Homo sapiens: one gene and its partner. The gene in region 1 interacts genetically with each later gene. Each region holds a gene or a part of one and is shown on either strand. Other genes may lie near its edges.

Evidence for each region.
Region 2: changes in NDUFS5 (region 1) and FLT3 together harm fitness less than expected from each alone (positive genetic interaction), as found in Homo sapiens cells (one study listed by BioGRID).

The regions. Positions count from the first base shown.
Region 1 is NC_000001.11:39,022,106-39,029,521, forward strand, and holds the start of NDUFS5 (NADH dehydrogenase [ubiquinone] iron-sulfur protein 5), read left to right. Parts: upstream 1-4,244; 5' UTR 4,245-4,297; intron 4,298-6,617; 5' UTR 6,618-6,619; coding exon 6,620-6,835; intron 6,836-7,416. UniProt on the Homo sapiens protein: Accessory subunit of the mitochondrial membrane respiratory chain NADH dehydrogenase (Complex I), that is believed not to be involved in catalysis. Complex I functions in the transfer of electrons from NADH to the respiratory chain.
Region 2 is NC_000013.11:28,027,409-28,034,860, reverse strand, and holds part of FLT3 (receptor-type tyrosine-protein kinase FLT3 precursor), read left to right. Parts: intron 1-453; coding exon 454-560; intron 561-646; coding exon 647-779; intron 780-869; coding exon 870-974; intron 975-6,572; coding exon 6,573-6,683; intron 6,684-7,452. UniProt on the Homo sapiens protein: Tyrosine-protein kinase that acts as a cell-surface receptor for the cytokine FLT3LG and regulates differentiation, proliferation and survival of hematopoietic progenitor cells and of dendritic cells.

The DNA of each region.
Region 1 (7,416 bases):
TGAAAAGAGCCCCTATAAGAGTAACATGAATTCTGCTAAAATTGAAGCAAGAACAAATATCAAGTTTATGGTTAAGCTTGGGTGGAAGAATGGTGAGATCATTGAAGCTTTACGAAAAGCTTATGGGGACAATGCCTCAAAGAAATCAGCAGTTTACAAATAGATAAATTGTTTTTTGTTGTTGTTTTTTGAGAGGGAGTCTCACTCTGTCACCCAGGCTGGAGTGCAGTGGCATGATCTAGGCTCGCTGCAGCCTCTGCCTCCCACGTTCCAGTGATTCTCCTGCCTCAGCCTCCCTGGGTAGCTGGGATTACAGGCGCCTGCCACCACGCCCGGCTAATTTTTGTATTTTTAGTAGAGATGGGGTTTTGCCATGTTGGCCAGGCTGGTCTTGAACTCCTGACCTCAGGTGATACACCTGCCTCGGCCTCCCAAAGTGCTGGGATTACAAGCATGAGCCACCGCACGTGGCCAGATAATTTGTTTTAAGAAGGGATGAGATTAGGCCGGGCTGTGCCTCTACTACAGACTCCTAGTATTTATTTTCTTTAAGAATACTTGGCCAGGCGTGGTGGCTCATGCCTGTAATCTCAGCACTTTGAGATGCTGAGGCAGGCGAATCACCTGAGGTCAGGAGTTCAAGACCAGCCTGGCCAACATGGTGAAACCCCGTCTCCACCAAAAATACAAAAATTAGCTGGGCATTGTGGTGGGCTCTTATAATCCCAGCTACCTGGGAAGGCTGAGGCAGGAGAACTGCTTGAACCCAAGAGGCGGAGGTTGCAGTGAGCCGAGACCACGCCATTGCACTCCAGCCTGGGCGACAGAGCAAGACTCCATCTCCAAAAAGAAACAAAATAAAGAAGGGATGAAATGATGTTGAAGATGAAACCCACAGTGGCAGACCATCCACATCAATTTATGAGAAAAACATTTTGTGTCCTAACTGAAGTGGATTGACAACAGCAGAAATAATAATCAATACCATAGGCATCTCACTTGGTTCGGCTTACATAATTCTGACTGAAAAACTAAAGTTGAGCAAACATTCCACTTGGCAGGTGCCAAACCATCATGCCCAGATCAGCTGCAGAGCTTTCAATGGGAATTTTAAACAAGCAGGATGAAGATCCTGAAGCATTTCTTTGAAGAATTGTAATAGGAGATGAAACATGGCTTTACCAGTACAATCCTAAAGACAATGCACAATCAAAGCAATGGCTACCAAGAGGTGGAAGTGTCTGGTCAAAGCAAAAGTGGACCAGTCAAGAGCAAAGGTCATGTCATTCGTTTTTTTTTTTTTAATGTTCAAGGCATTTTGTTTATTGACTTTCTGGAGGGCCAAAGAACAATAACATCTGCTTATTATGAGAGTGTTTTGAGAAAACTAGCAAAAGTTTTAGCAGAAAAATGCCTGGGAAAGCTTCACCAGAGTCATTCTCCGCTATAACAATGTTCCTGCTCATTTCTCTCAGCAAACAAGGGCAATTTTGCAAGAGTTTTGATGGGAAATCATTAGGCATCCACCTTACAGTACTGATCTGGCTCCTTCTGACTTCCTTTTGCCTTTTTTTTTTTTTTTTTTGGAGACAGAGTTTTGCTTTTGTTGCCCAGGCTGGAGTGCAATGGTGCGATCTCGGCTCCCTGCAACCTCTGCCTCTCCAGTTCAAGCGATGCTCCTGCCTCAGCCTCCTAAGTAGCTGGGATTACAGGTGCCTGCCACCACACCTGGCTAATTTTTTGTATTTTTAGTAGAGACAGGGTATCACCATGTTGGTCAGGCTGGTCTTGAACTCCTGAACTCAGGTGATCTGCCTGCCTCAGCCTCCCAAAATGCTGGGATTACAGGCATTAGCCACTGCACCTGGCCCTTGTTTTCTAATCTTAAAAAACTCTTTCAAGGGCACCCCATTTTTTCTTAGGTTAATAATGTATAAAAGAGGCTGCCTTATCCTTACAAGCAGCCTGCCCTCAACTCTCTCTCAGAGTGTTAAAAAAAAATGTATAAAAGGGCCAGGCATGGTGGCTCATGCCTGTAATCTCAGCACATTGGGAGGCCCAGGCAGGAGGATCACTTGAGCCCAGGAGCTGGAGACCAGCCTGGGAAACATAAAGAGATACTGATCTCCACAAAAAATTTTTTTAAAGAATTAGCTTGGCCGGGCGCAGTGGTTCACGCCTGTAATCCCAGCACTTTGGGAGGCTGAGGCGGGCAGATCACGAAGTCAACAGATCTAGACCATCCTAGCCAATATGGTGAAACCTCGTCTCTACTAAAAAAAAATACAAAAATCAGCTGGGAGTGGTGGCGCACACCTGTAGTCCCAGCTATTCAGGAGGCTGAGGCAGGAGAATCGCTTGAACCTGGGAGGTGGAGGTTGCAGTGAGCCAAGATTGCACCACTGCATTTCAGCCTGGTGACAGAGTGAAGCTCTGTCTCAAAAAAAAAAAAAAAAAAAGAATTAGCTGGGCACAGTGGCATGTCTGTAGTCCCAGCTACTTGGGAGGCTAAGCAGGAGGATTGCTTGAGCCCTGGAGTTTGAGGCTGCAGTGATCTATGATAGCACTACTGCACTCCAGCCTGGGTGATGGAGTGAGACCCTATCTCAAATAAAATAATAATTATAATAAAGACTGCCAGGCACATGGTGGCATGCACATGTGGTCCCAGCTATTTGGGAGGCTGAGGTGGGAGGATCACCAGAGCCCAGGGAGGTTGAGGCTGCAGTGAACTGTGATTGCACCACTGCACTCCAGCGGGGCAATGGGAGTGAGAATCTGTCTCAAAAGTAATAATTATATATATATATATTTATATATATATATATATATATATATATATATATATATATATATATGTTCTAGTATTTTCCTCCCATACCTCCAATGTATAATATCTCATGCACCCTGTGGTCCACCCCCCAAAGACATACACACAACACTTTAGAGTCTCTGATGTAGTCAAAGGGAGTCATTGGAGGTTCTGGAACAGATGACAGGCATGGTAGCAGTTGATTCACAAACTGAAAGCTGAGACATCAAAGAACTGCGACTGCCTTGGAATGTTTCCCATGTGCTAGCCACCGCCTCAGTGCTTTATACATAAATCAGTTAATCCCTATAGCAAGCCTCCATTGTGAATACCATAATTATCTTAACAGACGAGGAGACTGAGGCACAATGAAGTTAAGAAACTTTCCTAGAGTCACACGAAATTGGTGGGGGCCTACTTTTTTTTTTTTTTTTTTTTTTTTTTTTTTTTTTTTTTGAGACTGAATCTAGCTCTGTCGCCAGGCTGGAGTCCAGTGGCGCGATCTCACCTCACTGCAACCTCCGCCTCCCGGATTCAAGCGATTCTCCTGCCTCGGCCTCCCCCCACTAGCTGGGATTACAGGCACTCGCTGCCACACCCAGCTAATTTTTGTATTTTTAGTAGAGACAGGGTTTCACCATATTGGCCAGGATGGTCTCGATCTCCTGAGCTTGTGATCCGCCCACCTCGGCCTCCCATAGTGCTGGGATTACAGGCCTGAGCCACTGCGCCCGGCTGGGGGCCTACATTTGACCCCACGTGGTGGTTTGGGCTCATAGTCCATGTGCTTAACCACTAGTGGGTAGGCAGGGAGCCAGTGTTCTTTCTCTCCTGTGACTTTGGTGAAGTCTCTCACCACTCAGTGTTGTCGTGAGCATGCTAGGCAGAGTGCAAGAAAGGAGCAAGAACTCACTAATGGCTAGGCCTTCCCTGTGTCTCTGTAATTGATGGGTTTGGGTTTTTTTTCCTTTCTCTCTCTCTACCTCCTCTCTCTCTTCTTCATCCTCTCTCTCTCACTCTCCCCCTGAGATAAGGTCTTGCTCTGTTGCCAGGGCTGGAATGCAATGGAATGGTGTGATCATGGCTCACTACAGCCTCAATCTCCTGGGCTCAAGGGATCCTCCCACCTCAACCTCCTGAGTAGCTGGAACCACAGGCATGCACCACCTCGCCCGGCTAATTTTTTATTTTTTGTAGAGAGGGGAGTTTCGCCATGTTGCCCAGGCTGTTTTCGAACTCCTGGGCTGAAGTGATCTTCCTCCCTCAGCCTTCCAAGGTGCTGGGATTGCAGACGTCAGCCACCGTACCAGGCCAACGGGCTCGGTTTCTATGGTTTTGTGGGGAGACGGCTGAGGGAAGGTCGGCTTCCGGCGTCGCGCTGCAAACGTCTCGCTGAGGTCATCCTTTACGGCAGGCGTCCGCGTCGCTAGCTAGTCGTTCTGAAGCGGCGGCCAGAGAAGAGTCAAGGGCACGAGCATCGGGTAGGTAGGGGCTGCTTATGTCCGCGCGGCAGCTTAGCTTAAGGACCTTCCTTCCGAGGTCTCTTTAACAGATTTCCTCTTGGCTTGCTGTGTGTCCCCTTCTCCCAGACCTGAACTCAGGGCGTGTTCCCTGCCCTCCCAGGCCGCTTCACCTCCACAGCTAATGGCACCGAAGCCTGGAGATTGCCGCTCTCTCCACTTTCCACATTTGTTTAGGTTTTTGCCGGACTAATGTTTTGGCTTTCTGTTTCTTAACCTAAAGTCTACGATCCTTATCCCAGCTTTCCAGGCTCTGCGTGATTTCGGCCCCGCCGGCCTCCTGAGCTCATTTCATTCTTTTCACCGTCATGCACGCTGCGCTCCATTGTCCCCCAAACATAGCCAGCACTTCCGGCTGTAACTCCGGGCTGTTGCCCAACTGGAACACTCTGCCCACTGATCTTCACTTGGCGAACTCGCAAGCCATGTTAAAGGCATTTTCAAGTCTCCGGGCAGAGTTCGTGCTTCCTCCTTCGAGCTCTTACCCACTCGTGTTCCTTGCAGTGTATTCGCAATTCCGAGTGTGTGTCTCTGGTGCTTACGTTGGAGCTGCTTTCCCCCGCATCTGAGTGCCTGGAACGTAACTACTCAGTAAATGATGACTGAGGGATGGGAAGGAACTTAAGAAGTTAAATTCACCTTTTTGTTGAGATGGAGTTTCGCTCTTGTTGCCCAGGCTGGAGTGCAGAGTGGCGCGATCTCGGCTCACTGCAGCCTCTGCCTCCCGGATTCAAGCGATTCTCCTCCCTGAGACTCCCGAGTAGCTGGGATTACAGGCATGCGCCCCCACGCCCGGCTAATTTTGTATTTTTTTAGTAGAGAGAGGGTTTCGCCATGTTGGTCAGGCTGGTCTTGAACTCGCGGCCTCAGGTGATCCGCCCGCCTCGGCCTCCCAAGGTGCTGGAATTACAGGCGTGAGCCACTGCGCCCAACTAAATTCACCTTTAAATCTACCATGAGTACACATTTATATTGATATTTGTGGGTGTGCGCGCGCTTCCTTTCAGTCATTTTAGGCAGTCAGGGTTTGTTTTTGTGTGTGTGTTTTTACATTTAACATTATTATGTATTTGCATGTAAATTTTTTTCCCTACTGTCTGTAATAGTCTACAAAGTAAGTCTTAACCCATTTCTTTCGCTCTGGTTTTTTTTTTTTTTTGAGACAGGATCTCGCTTTGTTGCCCAGGATGGAGTGCAGTGGCCAGGTCATAGCTCACTGAAGCCTTGAACTCCTGGCCTCAGTCTCCTGCCTCAGCCTTAGGAGTAGCTGGGACTACAGGCGCACATACCACCACAAGTGCCTTTTTTTTTTTTTTTTTTTTTTTTTGAGACAGAGAACCTGACCAAAGGATCCAAATTCTTTTTTTCTTCTTCTTCTTTTTTTTTTTTTTTTTTTTTTGAGACAGAGTCTCGCTCTGTCGCCCAGGCTGGAGTACAATGGCGGATCTTGGCTTATTGCAACCTCTGTCTCCCCAGTTCAAGCAGTTCTCCTGTCTCAGCCTCCCGAATAGTTGGGATTACAGGCATGTGCCAACACGCCCAGCTAATTTTTTTGTATTTTTAGTAGAGACGGGATTTCACCATATTGGCCAGGCTGGTCTTGAACTCCTGACCTCAGGTAATCCACCCGCCTTGGCCTCCCAAAGTTCTGGGATTACAGGCATGAGCCACCGCGCCTGGCCCACAAGTGGCTGATTTAAAAAAAAAATTTAGGCCAGGTGCAGTGGCTCACACCTGTAATCCCAGCACTTTGGGAGGCCAAGGCGGGCGGATCACCTGAGGTCAGGAGTTCAAGACCAGCCTCGCCAACATGCTGAAACCCCATCTCTACTAAAAATACAAAAATTAGCTGGGCGTGGTGGTGCGCACCTGTAGTCCCAGCTACTTGGGAGGCTGAGGCAGGAGAATCGCTTGAACCCTGGAGGAGGAGGTTGCAGTGAGCCAAGATTGCACCATGCGCTGCAGCCTGGGTAACAGACGGAGACTCCATCTCACGTGGTAGGTGAGCCACCGCTCCTGACCGAGAAAGGATTTCTATGCATTGTTCTTTAGTTATAGTTCTCTTTTCCTTGAGTTTTGAAAAAGCGCAAAAACTGCTTATCTGCCATAAACTGGAAGAACCTATTTAATGAAAAAGTTTGGTGAGAAGAAATCAGGAGAATAATATCAAACAGTGTTCTAGAGGGCTACTTAGCATGATTATCTAATTTTTTCTTAGAAATTTCTCAGTTGATTGCCCTCTTGTGGTATTTTATTTACTTATTTTTTTAAATCTTCCATTACAGCCATGCCTTTCTTGGACATCCAGAAAAGGTTCGGCCTTAACATAGATCGATGGTTGACAATCCAGAGTGGTGAACAGCCCTACAAGATGGCTGGTCGATGCCATGCTTTTGAAAAAGAATGGATAGAATGTGCACATGGAATCGGTTATACTCGGGCAGAGAAAGAGTGCAAGATAGAATATGATGATTTCGTAGAGTGTTTGCTTCGGCAGAAAACGGTAAGGAAATGATGGAGGTGGAAGCTGAATTACTTTCTTGTTCCTTTGGGACTCTTTTTTTTTTTTTTTGAGACGAAGTCTCACTCTTGTCCCCTAGGCTGGTGTGTGATGGCGCCACCTCGTCTCACTGTAGCCTCTGCCTCCCAGGTTCAGGCGATTCGCGTACCTCAGCCTCCCGAGTAGCTGGGATTATAGGCACCTGCCACCACGCCTGGCTAATTTTTGTATTTTTAGTAGAAACGGGATTTCACCATGCTGGCCAGGCTGGTCTTGAACTCCAGACCTCAGGTGATCCGCCCCCCTCAGCCTCCCAAAGTAGTGGGATCACAGGCATGAGCCACCGTGCCTGGCCTCCTCTGGGATTACTCTTAAGTGTTTTTAGTGGGTCATTGAGCAGTGGCTTGCCAAATGTGAATTGGCAAAGCTTTTCTGGTGAAATACCTTTCCTACTTTGGTACCATGATGAGGAAATTAAATGCCTTCAGATATGAGGATGGTCCATTGTTCCTCAGCATTCTTTCTCTTCTCCCAAATTTTCCTTAGTATTTTACCCTGCTTTAGCCACCAGGTTAGAAATTGCA
Region 2 (7,452 bases), on another chromosome or scaffold:
TGCCTCAGCCTCCCGAGCAGCTGGGATTACAGGCACCTGCCACCACGCCCAGCTAATTTTTGAATTTTTTTAGAGACGGGATTTCACTGTGTTGCCTGGGCTGGTGTCTAATTCTTGGACTCAAGTGATCCTCCCATCTTGGCCTCCCAAAGTGCTGGGACTACAGGCGTGAGCCATCGTGCCTGGACCAGATGTAATTCTTGTAAATTTACCCTAGTAAATGGTTTTAAAGAATGGATTGAGAATAATCCGCAATTTTCTAGGGAGGAAATGTATCCTTTACAGGGACATTGCCTGATTGTCTGTGGGGAGTAGAGTATATGTAGAGTGGTTGTTAGGACTGAAAATGATTATTACTGAAACAGGATGTGAGAGATTATAATGAGTTGTCCACTATTTATAATGTCACACAGGAATTCTGTTTCATCGCTGAGTGACACTCTTTTGTTGCAGGCCCCTTCCCTTTCATCCAAGACAACATCTCATTCTATGCAACAATTGGTGTTTGTCTCCTCTTCATTGTCGTTTTAACCCTGCTAATTTGTCACAAGTACAAAAAGGTAAAAGCAAAGGTAAAAATTCATTATTCTTTCCTCTATCTGCAGAACTGCCTATTCCTAACTGACTCATCATTTCATCTCTGAAGCAATTTAGGTATGAAAGCCAGCTACAGATGGTACAGGTGACCGGCTCCTCAGATAATGAGTACTTCTACGTTGATTTCAGAGAATATGAATATGATCTCAAATGGGAGTTTCCAAGAGAAAATTTAGAGTTTGGTAAGAATGGAATGTGCCAAATGTTTCTGCAGCATTTCTTTTCCATTGGAAAATCTTTAAAATGCACGTACTCACCATTTGTCTTTGCAGGGAAGGTACTAGGATCAGGTGCTTTTGGAAAAGTGATGAACGCAACAGCTTATGGAATTAGCAAAACAGGAGTCTCAATCCAGGTTGCCGTCAAAATGCTGAAAGGTACAGTATAGTGGAAGGACAGCAACAAAGATGCACAAAAATGGGAGGCACAGTTTCCCACCCATGCCTTCTTCTCTTTTCCATCCTTTTAATGGTTACTGTTTGCCATGTTTCAAGGCTAAAAATGGAGTGGATTGGGGTGTCAACCCAGTCATGAATACAAAATTCAAGTCATAAATACAAAACTCCACCTCTTCTTCCACTTCTCTCTTTGTTTATTTTTATTTTCTTTTATTTTTTTGAGACAGGGTCTCACTCTGTCACCTAGGCTGGAGTACAGTAGTGTGATCATGGCTCACTGCAGCCTCCACCCCCTGGGCTCAGGCTCCTCAGCAGCTGGGGCTACAGGCGTGCACCACCACGCTCAGCTAAGTTTTTTATTTTTGGTAGAGACGGGGTTTCACCATGTTGCCTAGGCTGATCTGGGACTCCTGAGCTCAAACTATCTGCCCGCCTCGGCCTCCCAAAGTGTTGGGATTACAGGCGTGAGCCACTGTGCCAGGCCTATTTAGTTTTTATAGGCTTTGATATTTGGGGATACAGTTGCCACAGGCAGAAGTTCTTTCTTACATTTGTGTTGTTTTATTTTTAGAGACAGGATCTTGCTCTGTTACCCAGGCTAGAGTGCTGTGATCATAGCTCACTGCAGCCTCGACCTCCTTGGCTCTAGCAATGCTCTCACCTCAGCCTCACAGGAGTGTGCCAAGACAATTGGCTAATTTTTTTTTTTTTTTGTAGATACGGTGTCTCACCATATTGCCCAGGATGGTTGCAAACTCCTGGCTCAAGTGAGGCTGCCTTGGCCTCCTAAAGTGCTGGGATTACAGGTGTGGGTTGAAACAGACTCTGGGTAGGAGAGAAAACTGGGGCCCTTTGTATCCTCACTTCGTTGCTCCATCCATTCCGATCTGGCGTCCAGCCCCATTGCTGGCCTCACCGTTACCACCGCTGACCCAGCAAAAGCATCTCCAGCTGGCTCTCTTGCTAAGGTCAACAGTGACTTCAAACCAAACCAAGCCTAATGGATATTTTTCAGTCCTCATTACTTGATTGTTCAGCATGAATTGATGCTGTTGATTCTTCTCTCCATCCAGAAGCTTTCTTTCTTTGGGTTTTGTGTCACCATATTCTGGTTTTCCTCCCACCCCTCTGCCCTTCTCAGTCCTTTGTGGGCTCATCTTCTTCCATCCAGCTTTTGTTGTTGTGGCTGATTTTGAAACTCAGTCCTTTGTGGGCTCATCTTCTTCCATCCAGCTTTTGTTGTTGTGGCTGATTTTGAAACACAGCCTTGCTCTGTTGCCCAGGCTGGAGTGCAGTGGTGTGATCTCAGCTCACTGCAACCTCCACTTCCCAGGCTCAAGCCATCCTCCCACTTCAGGCCCCTGAGTAGGGGGGACTACAGGCATGCGCCACCATGCCTGGCTAATTTTTGTATTTTTGGTAGAGATGGGGCTTCGCCATGTTGCCCAGGCTCCATCCAGCTTTTTATGGGGCATCCCTGTGGGCTTGCTCCTGGACCGCCTTGCGTTTTCGCTCCACACACTCAACACAGTCCATCCCCACTACACCCGTGATGTCCTCCCATACACCAAGGGCCCTCATGCTTGCGTCTCCTTTCGGAGCTTCAGGTTCATATGTTAAATGTTTGGATGTCTCAAAGGTCCCTTTAACACAGTGTATGCAAGGTGAATTCCCCTAACCCTGGCCCTGCACCAGCAGTCCTCTCTGTGACTGGTAATGAATGCCAGTGAATAAATAACCACATTCTATATAGTTGGGCACACTAGAAACCCGTGACTTTTCCTTGACACCTTCCTCTTTCTAACACCCTGTGAGCTAATCCTATCAGGTTTCCGATTAGTGTCTCTTGATTCCATCCTCGTCCCTCCATCTCTATGACCACCACTCTAGTTCAAGGCTCTCTCCTGGACAAAAGCTTCCAAAGCAGGTTCCTGTATCCACTCTTGCCTCCCTTTGGCTTCTCCATACTGAGGTCCAAGTGACAGTGGCGAAAGGCTAAGCAGATCAAATGGCTTTCCTACTTCACATTTCCTCCACCACCCGCATGGCTGGGCCACCGCTGCCTCCCCACCTCTTGCTCTCGGCACCCCAGAGCGCTGGCCTTCTTTCAGTTCCCCCAGCACTGTCCTCCCACCCACTGTGGGGCCTTTGCACAAGTGGATCCTTCTGCTTCCCCTTCCCCTTTCATGTAAGTATCTCCCACTGCCCCCTCAGATCTCAGCTTAAACACCACTTCCTCTGTCTCACACCACAGACAATATTGAGGCCCTTGCAATGTGCGACATTAGCTCTCTGCAGGCTTTCCCCCGTAGAATCCATCACCTTTGTCATGACATTTTTTAACATCCAATTGTTGTCCCATCTGTCCAGTAGCCCCTGTGCCTCATGAGGGCAGGGTCTGTGTCTGTGGTGCTGTGCTCTCTCCTTTCTCGACCTTTGCCCACTCTTTCACAACCCTCAGCACTGTTCTCCTCCCCTTCCACCATGAGTCACCTGGCCAGCTCCCATTTTTCTTCAGGACTCAGTTTAGACATTGAATGCTCCTTTCTCCACCCCTCCAAGGCTAAGGTAGCTATCCCTTTTGACCCTACAGTACCCCTGCACTCCTTTGCCACGTTGCATTTTTTCTTCTTTTTTTGAGACGGAGTCTCACTCTGTCGCCCAGGCTGGAGTGCAGTGGCACCATCTCAGCTCACTGTAAGCTCCGCCTCCTGGGTTCACGCCATTCTCCTGCCTCAGCCTCCCTAGCAGCTGGGACTACAGGCACCCACCACCACGCCCGGCTAAATTTTTTTGTATTTTTAGTAGAGACAGAGTTTCACCGTGTTAGCCAGGATGGTCTTGATCTCCTGACCTCGTGATCCGCCTGTCTCAGCCTCCCAAAGTGCTGGGATTACAGGCATGAGCCACCGTGCCCAGCCCAACGTTGCATTTTTTCTTTTTCTTTCTTTTTTCTTTTTTTGAGATAGGGTCTCACTCTGTCACCCAGGCTGGAGTGCAGTGAAGTCATCATAGCTCACGGCAAGCTTCAAGTCCTGGGCTCAAGTGATGGTCTGCAGCCTTTCCAGTAACTGGAACTACATGCAGGCACCACCAAGCCCAGCTAATTTTTATTTTATTTTATTTTATTTATTTATGTATTTTTACTTTATTTTATTTTTAAGTAGAGACAAGCTCTTGCTATTTTGCCCGGGCCTTTCTTGAACTTCTGGGTACCAGCAATTCTCCCGCTTGTCTCAGCCTCCCAAGATGTTGGGATTAGAGGCGCGGGGACCCACGTCTTGCCTGCCGTATTGCATTTATGGCACTGTATTGTCATGGCTTATTTACTTCTCTGCCTTCTCCAGGAGACTCTAAGATCCAGGAAGACAAGGGTTGTGTCTTGTTTTTCCTTCATTCCCCAGTGTCTAGGACATTGGCTCTTACAGAGTAGGCACTCAATAAATACTTGTTGAATGACTGAATGAAAGAGGTAATGGTACATGAAAATGCTTAGAAGAAGCTAAGCATGCTAAAAAATGTAAGATATTATTTTAGCCATGAGGAATAGGACATGAACAAGTAAAGCCCCGAATCCCTGTCCAGCGTGAAGCTGAAGACATGATGTATTAGGGGGTCCCAGTGCCCACAGGAAATCCCACCCCCAAGCTAAAATCTTGGAAACAAGGATACCCCTGAGAGCTTGCCCAAACCAAAATAGAGGATGTCAGCACCGGAGAAGCCACTATAAAGGTTAGGATGCCTTCCTGGACAAAATAATGGAACCTGGCAATCGAACCAAATCTTCACTGAATGTAAAGAAGAGTTACTATATCTGGAAGAAAAAGTCTGTTCACAGAGGGGTGGTGCCTGGAGCCTGGAGAGGGAAGTCCAGAGACCCTGCCCTTGCCCCTGTGGCTGCCCGGGCTGCCCTGACCAACTGCACATGAGCCGCAATGACGGGAGCCCTTGGATTCCATAGTGACTTTCCTCACACTGTGCTTCTAAGTCAGCTTATAAGTACAGTTTGCTGAGCTATCTGGAATTTTCCCTAGAGAGAGAATGCATTGGCCAACCAATATGTTCTAGCCTGCTTGGCAGTTTTATTTCTCAATGTCAATTAATGGGTCTCTTGAGCACCTGATAGTGGGAATTAGTCCTCTTTGACCTTCTCCCATTGGACTTGCTGGCAAATCTAATGTTCTAGACCTGAGGGCCACAGGCTAGAGTCAACCATGCTCACGACACTGTTATCTCTCTCTGACTACAACAGATCCAAGAGTTCAAACAAACAAACAAAAAGGACGTTTCTCCCTTCTGTTAACTTGTACTGAGGAGGAAAAGCATGTGTTATTATTTTGTTTGTTTGTTTTGAGGGCCAACTGTAAGGATTTTTATTTTGGTAGGTAGAGGAAAGTCCTGTTGAAAGGTGCATTACCAGATTCAACATTTATACTATAGTCTTTGTTTTGTTTTGTTTTGTTTTGTTTTTGAGACAGAGTCTCGCTCTGTCACCCAGGCTGGAGTGGTGCAGGGGCTCAATCTCGGCTCACTGCAACCTCTGCCTCCCCAGTTCAAGGGATTCTTTTGCCTCATCCTCCTGAGTAGCTGGAATTACAGGTACGCACCGGCACGCCCGGCTAATTTTTTGTATGTTTAGTAGAGACAGGGTTTCACCATGTTGGCCAGGTTGGTCTTCAACTCCTGACCTTAAGTGATCCACCCGCCTTGGCCTCCCAAAGTGTTGGGATTACAGGTGTGAGCCACTGCGCCCAGCCCTATACTACAGTCTGAATTCTGCCTTAGGCTGGGCATGGTGGCTCATGCCTGTATTCCCAGCACTTTGGGAGGCGGAGTTGGGAGGATTGCTTGAATCTAGGAGTTCAAGACCAGCCTGGGCAACATGGTGAGACCCCATCTCTACAAAAAATATAAAAATTAGCTGGGCATGATGGCCTGTGCTTGTAGTACCAGTAACTTGGAGGGCTGAGGTAGGAGGATCACTTGAGCCCAGGAGGCAGAGGCTACAGTAAGCTGAGATCATGTCACTACACTCCAGCCTGGGTGACAGAGTGAGATACTGTGTCAAAAAAAAAGAAAGAAAGAAAAGGAAAAAAAAAAAAGAAAAAGGAGAAATTCTGTCTTAAAACACAGGATATTGTTTGTTTGTTTATTTATTTATTTATTTTAAGATGGAGTTTCACTCTTGTTGCCCAGGCTGGAGTGCAATGGTGCAGTCTCAGCTAATTGCAACCTCTGCCTCCCACATTCAAGCGATTCTCCTGCCTCATCCTCCCAAGTAGCTGGGATTACAGGTGCCTGCCACCACGCCTGGCTAATTTTTGTATTTTTAGTAGAGACGAGGTTTCACCATATTGGCCAGGCCAGTCTTGAACTTCTGACCTCAAGTGATCCACCCACCTCGGCCTCCCAAAGTGCTGGGATTACAGGCATGACCCACCATGCCTGGCTTCTCTCATAATTTTGAATTTAAATAAATAATGCAGATTGACTCTGAGCTGAGAAAAATTTTATTTAATGACATAAAATTCGTATTTTACTTGAGTTTTACATTTTTAATGCTCCTTTCTTTGACAGAAAAAGCAGACAGCTCTGAAAGAGAGGCACTCATGTCAGAACTCAAGATGATGACCCAGCTGGGAAGCCACGAGAATATTGTGAACCTGCTGGGGGCGTGCACACTGTCAGGTAACCCACTTCCACGAAAATCACCTCATCAAAAAGACTGTAGCTTGATGACAAAGAGGATGTTTGCTCTCTCTCTCTCTCTCTCTCTTTTTAATTCTTTGTCTTTTCTCAGTCACAGTGTGAACTCTCAAACCCAAGTGGAATTAGACACTGAGCACTCTATAAATCAGAGGGGTCAAAATAAAGAATGCCTCATTCATCTGCTTTATCGTGATATATTGCATAATTCTCACCTGCTTAAAAACAACAACAACAACAACATTGCAAGTACATTTGGTGGTGTCTGTGCTTCTCTCCCAGCTTGGAAGCTGGTGCACAGGCGTGGTGAGAGTGGTTACAGAGCCTGGCCACTGCCCCAGTTGGGCTGCCGTCAAATACGGCACAGCCTAGCTAGGATATCAGACTTTACTTTCCCAGAATTCTCTGGGGCATGCCCTCTGATCTTCTCTCTTCTGCCTAGAAATACCCAAATGATGTGCCCAAGGTTCATTCTTTCTGCAGCAGCAGGCCTGGGGCTGGTACTAAAAGAAAGGAAAAAGAGGAAAGTGAATCTGAGAGAGGACTGGGAATATATTTCTCCCTCCTCAAGCAAACAGCAAATCAGCATATAGTTACCAAGTGTTCACCTATAATACACAGCTAGAACATTACTTTCAGTTGCCAACTGGAGAATCCAGGAGGCCAGTGGTATTGGTGAGGCCACACATACAAAAAAGGGCCACAGAGAATGTCAAGAAGATGCTGCTTTCCAAAGAAATTTGAGCAAAAG